2 linked regions of the Homo sapiens genome follow. The protein of the gene in region 1 interacts with the protein of each later gene in a pairwise test. Each region holds a gene or a part of one and is shown on either strand. Other genes may lie near its edges.

Region 1 (4,556 bases):
TGACCTTCCTCTATAGGTTTGCTGTGGGGAGGAGTAAAACAATCCTAACCACTTGAATAGGATTTATTATTCAATGATAAAATCTTACCATAGGAATTCTGTATGGAGGACATAAAGTTAAGGACACAGCTATAGCTTAGTAAGCTAATCAGCAAAGCCTTTGTCCAAGTATTGCTGGTACCACATTGCTGGGCAACATCACGAGCAGGCACAAGAGGTAGGCAGAGATGATTAAAACCCATCATCCAAGGAACAAAGAATTTAGGGCAATAGTTCTCAATCACCACACATATCGGAAATACCTGGGGAATAGAGCCTGGGACTTGGCTTAGACCTACACTGGAATCAGTATCTGGCTCTGAACCACATGGTTTTGTTACCACTCCCCATCACCCCCAGCCCTGCCACCATGCCTTGTATGTGTACACACTGAATGTGTACATGTGCATTGATGGGTAGGGGGAGAAACCAGAAATCTCCCCGGCTGCCTTTTGTAGCAACTGTTCTGTGATGAGAAAAGCAATGGAAACATGTTCAACCATAATGATGATTAAACGCGAATGTACGTATTTATGTTCCTTTCATAGGTTTCTCTTAAAGTTCTGATGATAATTTCAGGAACCTATTTTTATTTGAAAAATAGGACCATACCCTGTGTACAAGACTAATTTCTAAAGACACTTTATAAATGAGAAATATCTTACCAAAGTTACTATTGCACATTCAGCTGTTAGCTGTGCAGCACTAAAAAGAGTACGAACAAATCTGTAAATAAATTTGTGCTCAGGATCATGCTTAAAGTATTCCTCTGGAACTTTTTCTCGCTGAAAGAAGAAAAGATGCAATGTTAGTATCCACTGAAGAAAAAAATTTTAAGCTTTTTTTTTTTTTTTTTGAGACTGAGTTTCACTCTTACTGCCCAGGCTGGAGTGCAATGGCATGATCTTGGCTCACTGCAACCTCTACCCCCCGGGTTTAAGTGATTCTCCTGCCTCAGCCTCCTGAGTAGCTAGGATTACAGGCACCCGCCACCACGCCCAGCTAGTTTTTGTATTTTTAGTAGAGACGGGGTTTCAACATGTTGGTCAGGCTGGTCTCAAACTCCTGACCTCAGGCAATCCACCTGCCTTGGCCTCCCAAAGTGCTGGGATTACACGCGTGAGACACCACGCCCGGCCTAAGTACTTTTTTTTTTTTTTTTGAGACCCAGTCTTGCTCTGTCGCCCAGGCTGGAATGCAGTGGCACAATCTCGGCTCACTGCAACCTCCACCTCCCAGGTTCAAGTGATTCTCCTGCCTCAGCCTCCTGAGTAGCTGGGATTACAGGCGTGCACCAACATGTCCGGCTAATTTTTTGTATTTTTAACAGAGGCAGGGTTTCACCATGCTGGCCAGGCTGGTCTCAAACTCCTGACCTCATGATCTGCCCACCTCGGCCTCCCAAAGAGCTGGGATTACAGGGGTGAGCCACCATGCCCAGCTGGCCTAAGTACTCCTAAGACCAGCAGTGTTGACGTTTGAGCCCATGTACCCCTTAAAATAATTCTGGTTGAGTGACATGACTTTTAGTTTTTAAAATATAAACAATTGGATCTTAAAATATCATAGTGATTCAATACTCATCACCATTTATCATTAAGGAAAAATACAGGCACAACTCAGAAAATTTTTATGTTCCTTTCCACTTTCTATCCACAGAATTCTATCAAAATGTAAACTACTTGTAGGCTCGAAAGTCTTACTAATCATATGTTAGGATTCTCTTAAATACACTTTGAAAAATTTTTTTTTTTTGAGATGGAGTCTCACTGTCGCCCAGGCTGGAGTGCAGTGGAGCGATCTTGGCTCACTGCAAGCTCCGCCTTCCACGTTCACGCCATTCTCCTGCCTCAGCCTCCCAAGTAGCTGGGACTACAGGCGCCTGCCACCGTGCCCGGCTAATTTTTTGTATTTTTAGTAGAGACGGGGTTTCACTGTGTTAGCCAGGATGGTCTTGATCTCCTGACCTCGTGATCCGCCTGCCTCGGCCTCCCAAAGTGCTGAGATTACAGGCATGAGCCACCGTGCCCGGCCTGAAAAAATATCTTTAGTTTCCTGTAACCATAAGGCTCAAAGGCTTCACTGTCCAAGACAATAGTCATTAGCCACGAGCGGCTATCATATACCTGAGGAAGTGAATTTTTAAATGTTTACACCATTTTAATTGATTTAAATTTAAATTGTTTTCTAATTATCTTCATAGAGATCATGTATATTTGTTAGGACTATTTATAAATATCAGCATGAAATAAACACAACTCTATGAGAGAAAAATACTACCTCAAAAAAAGTGACACTTACTGTAAGTGGATGTGATCTCTCATCAAAAATATCCAGGGATCTATTTGCATCTCTATAAAATAAGAATATGCATTGAAGAAGTTAATTCAGGAATTGTTAATATCTGAGTAAAATGTCTGCTGGGGGTGGCGGGAGATGCCTCCTGTTTGCTTTGGTGTTTGCTTCACCAAAGCAAAGAGTTGTACAAATTCTTCTCCGGGATGCCAGCCTTCAGAGGATTTCCTGACCTCTTTTTACTCAGCATATGAGGTTCTGTACTGTGAGGTCTTTTCTACAATGACGATTCAGAATTGCCTTTAAGTATTGGCCCTCCCTAACAGGCAATGGTAATAAAGTATATTTTCACTCTTCTAACCCCTCATTGGAACTCAAGAACGTTTTACACAGCAGTAGTGGTGGGCAATAAACTCTTTAGAACTTTAATGACTGTGAATGAAATTCAGATTTCCCAGGCTTTTCCTTTCTAGTTCTCCGTATTACATTCTTGACATGTATTTGTTTAAGTAGTTTGATGAGTTAAAAACCTTATTGTCTTTTTATTTTAAAAGAGACAAGGCTTTGATAATCTTTACAAGTTTATAAAACTAATACATTGTGCTCATTTAATAAAACCAGTGGTTCTCCAAGTGTGGTCTGTGGACTTCTGGAGACCCTCTAGATCCTTTTCCAAGAGGTCCTTGAGGTCAAAACTGTTCTTTTAAGAATACTTATTCAACCTGAGAAAGCTGATTGAAAATTTAGAAATAAAAATAATTTAAAAAAAAAGAATACTAAGGTATTGCTTGCTTTTTGACTGTATGACATTTGTAATGAGTGTATAACAGCAAAAGTGGGCAAACTGCTGGCTTCTCAGCATGAATCAAGGCAGTGCTACCAAATTATACTAGAAGTTATGCTACTCTTTACTGCCTCTTGCAGTTTAAGAAAAACACCTGCTTCACTCATGAATATCCTTGCTGAAGCAGTAAAAATTAATGGTATTATTAAATCTTGACCTTTCTTTTCACTATTCTGGAGTAAGCAGAAAGTTCACATAAAGTAATTCTGCATACCGAGGTAGAGTTGTGTTAAGGAAAAGCACTTGTGATTTAATTGTGAGCTAAACAAGCCATTTTTTTTTCACAGAATATCATTTTTACTTGAAAGTACAAATGTCATTCTCAAAAATGAAAGAAGTGGCCAGGTGTGGTGGCTCATGCCTATAATCCCAGCACCTTGGGAGGCTGAGGCGGGTGGATCACTTGAGGTCAGGAGTTCGAGACCAGCCTGGCCAACAGGGTGAAACCCCATCTCTACTAATACAAAAATTAGCCAGGCATGGTGACAGGCGCCCGCAGTCCCGGCTACTCAGGAGGCTGAGGCAGGAGAATCACTTGAACCCGGAAGGCAGAGGTTACAGTGAGCGAAGATGGCACCAGTGCCCTCCAGCCTGGGCAACAGAGTGAGACTCAGTCTCAAAAGATAAATAAATAAAAAGTTTTAAAAAAATGAAGCCTGTCACTTCAAGAAAATAACACTATTTGTTGCAATGATAAAATTCAAGCTTTCAAACTAAAAATCAGGATTTGGAGAAACTTGTACCTTATTATGTGAGTTTAACAGCTTCTCAATACTTAAAGATTTTTTAATACAATTGGTGGTGATACTAACAAAAGTGAGCTTTGCCACTGTCAAGAAATGTGAACCAGGCTGGGTATGGTGGCTCACGCCTGTAATCCTAGCACTTTGGGAGGCTGAGGTGTGCGGATTGCTTGAGCTCAGGAATTCAAGACCAGCCTGGGCAACATGGTGAAACACTGTCTCTACTAAAAATACAAAAAATTAGCTGGTATGGTGGTATGTATTTGTAATCTCAGCTACTTGGGAGGTTGAGACAGGAGAATCGCTTGAACCCGGGAGGCGGAGGTTGCAGTGAGCTGAGACTGCACCACTGCACTCCAGCCTGGGTGATGGAATGAGACTCTGTCTCAAAAAAAAGAAAAAAAAAAGAAAGAAGAGATGTGAACCAATATTTTCCATATAACCAATGCATAATATTAGAAAACCAAGTAAGGGGAAATGATACATATATTGTACAAGACAGATGGGTGAGTACTAATAAAAAATTCATTGATAACACAAAATTCCACTGTAACCATTTTAAGAAACTAGCACTTGTGGAGTGTTGGGTAGTATTAAAGAATACTGGCCGGGTATGGTGGCTCATGCCTGTAATC
Region 2 (4,293 bases), on another chromosome or scaffold:
CAAAGGGAACCACAGCAAATGCAAAACCCCTGAGGCTGGATTGTGCCCGTTTCACTCAAACAGCTAGAAAGAGCGCTAGTATGGTGGCAGTGAGTCAGGGGAAGAAGAGGAAGAGATGAGGTCAGAGAAGTGATGAGCCTGTTCTATGCCAAGGCGAGGACTTTTATCTTTGTCAAATATTTCCACTCCCATCATGGCCCGGGAAATCTCACTAATGTAAACCTTACTGAAAATCCTAACTGCTGTGATCAAGGCTGCCATAAAGGGAAGCCCGGAAGAGGCGGGGAGGCTGCCTTGGAACAGGGTAGTGTAAGGATGTGCCAGAAGGCCTGCTGGAGGTTGCAGCCCTTTGAGCTGGACTTGGGGATAGTGTGGTTTTCCAGGCAGAAGGAAGTGAAGGATTAGGTCGGCCTGGTAGTACTTGGCACACAACATGCGCCCAATAAATAAAATGGAAATAAAACCGCGGAGTGTTCTACTTGTGTTGACTGACATCAAAACAAAACAAAAAACCCTCAGAGTGAGGGGAGGCACGGGAGGGGCTGTGCCGGGCAAGAGAGGTGGCAGGAAAATCCAACGCACGGCGCCTATGCAAATACTCGTGTGAGGCAGAAAAGAGGCTCCGCCCCGCTCGAAGTTCCAAGCATGCGCAGTAGCGGCTCCTGCGCCTCTAAGGATCCGCCTCTTTCCTTCTTTCTCAGCCTGGGTTCCACCCCGGGAGGCCCGCTGTATGAGATGGAGGGCGGGCTAAAGGCGGGACGAGACTCGATTGAGCGCAATTATGACCAATCACCTTGCGGAATATTCGGCCTATAGCGAAGGAGGAGCTCAGAACAAAAAGGAGACCCCACCCCCGCCGACGGTGAAAACCTATGAAACCTGGGCGGAGGCGTGCGGAGTCGGGTAGAGAGCGAAATCACGCCTCTTCAGTCAGCCACGCCCTTTATTCTTGCTCGGCCTCGCCACAGAGAGCAAATCAGATTGGCTGGGCGACAACCTCAAAGGGCGGGGCTGCACACGTTCACTACGGGAATGAGGTAGCGGTGGAGGGGGCAGTTGGGCGGGGATAGGCCGTCCTAGCTAAGGTGGTAAAGGCCAATAACTCTTCAGGCTGCCTCTCCTCGAAAAGTCATCTTCTCGCGAACCTTTAAAATGCCTTCCTCCCCAAGCACCTCAAGGGACTAGAACTGAGTGCTTCATTTGTCTTTTTTCCTCCTTGCAAAAGTCCCGTTTGCCACCATGGGGATGTACCAAGTGAGACCGAGTAGGGGGAACGAGTGGTGATTGACGCGCCAGGTTACTGGCCACTGCTCACCTAGGCGCTAGCAAACTTCTGCCAAGATCGGAACTGAGTACTAAACAGCCTCCACAGTTCTCCCTGGTGCCGTCTCCGGCTTGGCGCCGCATCCTCCTCTGGGCTCGCGATGGCCGCGTCCCCTCCCGCTGCGGACGGGTCCTTTGGTACATGCAGTCCGAGGTGAGTCCCCTCCTTTCCACTTCACCCTTCCGAGCGCCTGCGTGCGCATGCGCGGAGCGCGGCGCGCGCGGCGGTTGGGCCGTTGGCTGTTCGGCCCTGGGATCCGCCGCCACTCCGCGATCAGACCGCTCTGTGCCGCGAGCCGCCGTGAGCACTCGGATTCAAGCCGGCGCCAACGAGTCCGGGGGCATCGCCCGCAGCGGCCAAGCTCATGGCCGGCTGAGCGGGACGCCGCCTCCGCCTCAGCCACCGCCGCCGCCGCCGCCTCCTCCTCCTCAGCCGGCGGCGGCCCGGGCCCAGCAACCATGGCTGAAGACTACTGGGACGGGCGCCTGCGGCGAACAGGAGGAGAAGGAGGTCGCGCGGCCTCATCCCGGGCCGCCGCCCCAGGCGCCGCCGCGCCGGCCCCGCGGCTCTGAGGTTGCTCGCGCGCCCCCGCCGGTGAGCGCGTCCCCGAGGCGTGGAGGCTGCCCCTCCTCCTTCAGAACCCACCTCGGGCGGTGCCCAGGGGTCTGGGCTGCGGGGCTGGCAGGTGCCCCCACCCCCGGCGAATTTCCCAGAATGCACCGGGGCGGGGGGTCATTTGGGGCCTCCCTGACCTTGGCCCCGCCCTGGGCCTGTCCTGGGAGCTGGGGTTGGGTAGTGCTGTGGGTGCTAATGGGGACCTGGGGGAGTCAAAGGACCAAAGGGTGTGGAAATGGGTGACAATGGGGTGAAAGACTTGGGGGGGTTGCTGATGGGGGTCGGAGCATGTGGCAGTAAGCCTCACGCCAATAAGTCGTGTAAGGTTCAAGGCCCCGTGTGTGCTTGTGGAAGGAGGGCGGGGTGCGGAGCGGGTGAGGGACCCGAGGGTGTATAACGGGGGGTAGGGTGTCGAGGAAGTTCTAAGACATGCTCATAGGGATTATGTCCGCAGAGAGGCCCGGTGTGTGTTCATGGGGGACAGGGTGGCACAGGTACCAGAACGTGTGTTGGTGGGGTCAGGGCTCTGAGGCCTGGTGCGTGGCGATGAGGCCCTGGATGGTGTTAATACTGCGTGTCTGTCCGTGGGGCCTGCAGTGTGTGAGAATGCAGTGTGTGCTTGTGGAGGGCAGGTAGCTGAAGGACTCGAGTGTGGTGTGTGCGCCAGTGGGGGTCATGGCTGTAGAGGGTGTATGCCTGTGGCCTCGAAGGTCTAGGTAGTTTGGGACCCAGTATATGCTAATGAGGGCAGAGTGGAGGAAGGACCTGAGGGTATCTAACGGAGGAAGGACTGTGGAATACCTGAGCCTGGCCTAAAGGAGATGAGAATTGCGTGTCTGTCTGGGCCCAGGAAGGAGTGGTGGGGAAGTGTCTTAGCACTGTCAGAGGCTTAGTGGACGAAGGGTAAAGGTGATGTGAGGTGTGAGTGTGTCCATGGACACAGGGAATGTGAGTCTCGAGGGCACACTAGGAAGGAGCAGGGTAATAGAAGTACTGGTGGTTGCTAATGTGGGTTTAGAGACATAGAGGCACTTCAATGTGTGCCATTTCGAGAGTCAGCTGTGTGAAGTCTGGAATATGCTAATAAGCATCAGAACCTTGTGAAGATTGTGCCCTTGTGTCCGCGGAGGACCAGAGTATGTTGAGGTTCCAGGGGGTGCTACTCGGGGGTAGGGCTGCGGAGGGGATCTAGTGTGTAATAAGGGGGATCAGGGCTTTCATGAAGGGATCTAAGTGTGAACCAACAAGGATTATATCTGTGGAGATATCTCTGAGCAGAGAGCAATAGAGGACAGGAATGTGTGATGATCTCGGTGTGCTAAAGTGGATTACAGCTAGGGAGGGCTGAAGTGTGTGCTAATGGGAGTCAGGGCTGAATGAGACCTGTGTGCACTAATGAGGGTCAGGCCATGGTAGAACAGTGTGTTTGTGTGTCCCTGCGGAATAGGGCTGAGTAAGGGTTCAGGGTGCACTAATGGGGAGGCAGGACTGTGTGAGGCCCGGCGTGTGCTAATAGAAATCAGGCCTGAGTGAAGACTCAGTTTGTGCTGACAGAGGGGACAGGACAGTGGAAGGACTGGAATGTGTGTTAAGGATGGTCGTAGCTGTGAAGGGGCCTGAGTGTGGGTAACACTGGTTAGAGATCTATCTGTAAGGTTCACTTTATGTTAATAGCATTCAGAGCAGCATGAAGAAGGTCCAGTGAGTGCTAATGTGGGTCAGCTATAGAGTACCCCAAGTGCATGTTAATAGAGGTCAGAATCATGTAGGGGGAACAGTACGTTAATGAGGGGAGTCAGTACTATGGAGAAGGTAACAAGCAGCTAGGCCAGGGAGGGGCCCAAGAATGTGGTGGCAAGAGTTACTTAGAGGAGGCTAAGTGTGTGCTGACAGAGTTCAGGGCGGTATGTTATGTGTTAGGGCTTTGAATGCTGATGGGTATATGAGATAATAGCAGGTAAGATGTAGTGAGGCCTCCTTGAGGGTCTAGCGTGTATTAATGGGGATCAGGACATAGGGTGCGATGACCAAGTCCTTAGTGGTTGGTGTGTTGAGTATCCTTGAGTATGAGAGTAGTCTGAGGATGGGTGTATGTCTTTGGGGATCAGGAAGGGTCAGGCAGGACATGTGCCTTTTTTGGGGTAAGGTTTTATGTCCAGTTTCTTGCTCCCTCCTTTTTTGAAATCTAAAAAGCTCATTCAACTGAAATGATATTTAAAAGTTTCCTTGCGTATAAATGTTCAATTATCTCTGTTCACAGGGGCATGTCTGAGACCCCCATCCCCCTTTCTGGGAGTGTTATGTGATATACAGATTTTACACCCCATCTTCCTAAAATCCCAAAAAACTGAACT

What was found. Proteins that work in one complex are often made in the same cells at the same time.
Region 2: the proteins of CCNYL1 (region 1) and CDK16 interact in binary tests that used the Homo sapiens proteins (3 or more experiments, as listed by UniProt).

The regions. Positions count from the first base shown.
Region 1 is NC_000002.12:207,738,491-207,743,046, reverse strand, and holds part of CCNYL1 (cyclin-Y-like protein 1), read right to left. Parts: intron 2,393-4,556; coding exon 2,341-2,392; intron 825-2,340; coding exon 705-824; intron 1-704. UniProt on the Homo sapiens protein: Key regulator of Wnt signaling implicated in various biological processes including male fertility, embryonic neurogenesis and cortex development. Activates the cyclin-dependent kinase CDK16, and promotes sperm maturation.
Region 2 is NC_000023.11:47,217,188-47,221,480, forward strand, and holds the start of CDK16 (cyclin-dependent kinase 16), read left to right. Parts: upstream 1-1,493; 5' UTR 1,494-1,918; intron 1,919-3,097; exon of another isoform or gene 3,098-4,293. UniProt on the Homo sapiens protein: Protein kinase that plays a role in vesicle-mediated transport processes and exocytosis. Regulates GH1 release by brain neurons. Phosphorylates NSF, and thereby regulates NSF oligomerization. Required for normal spermatogenesis.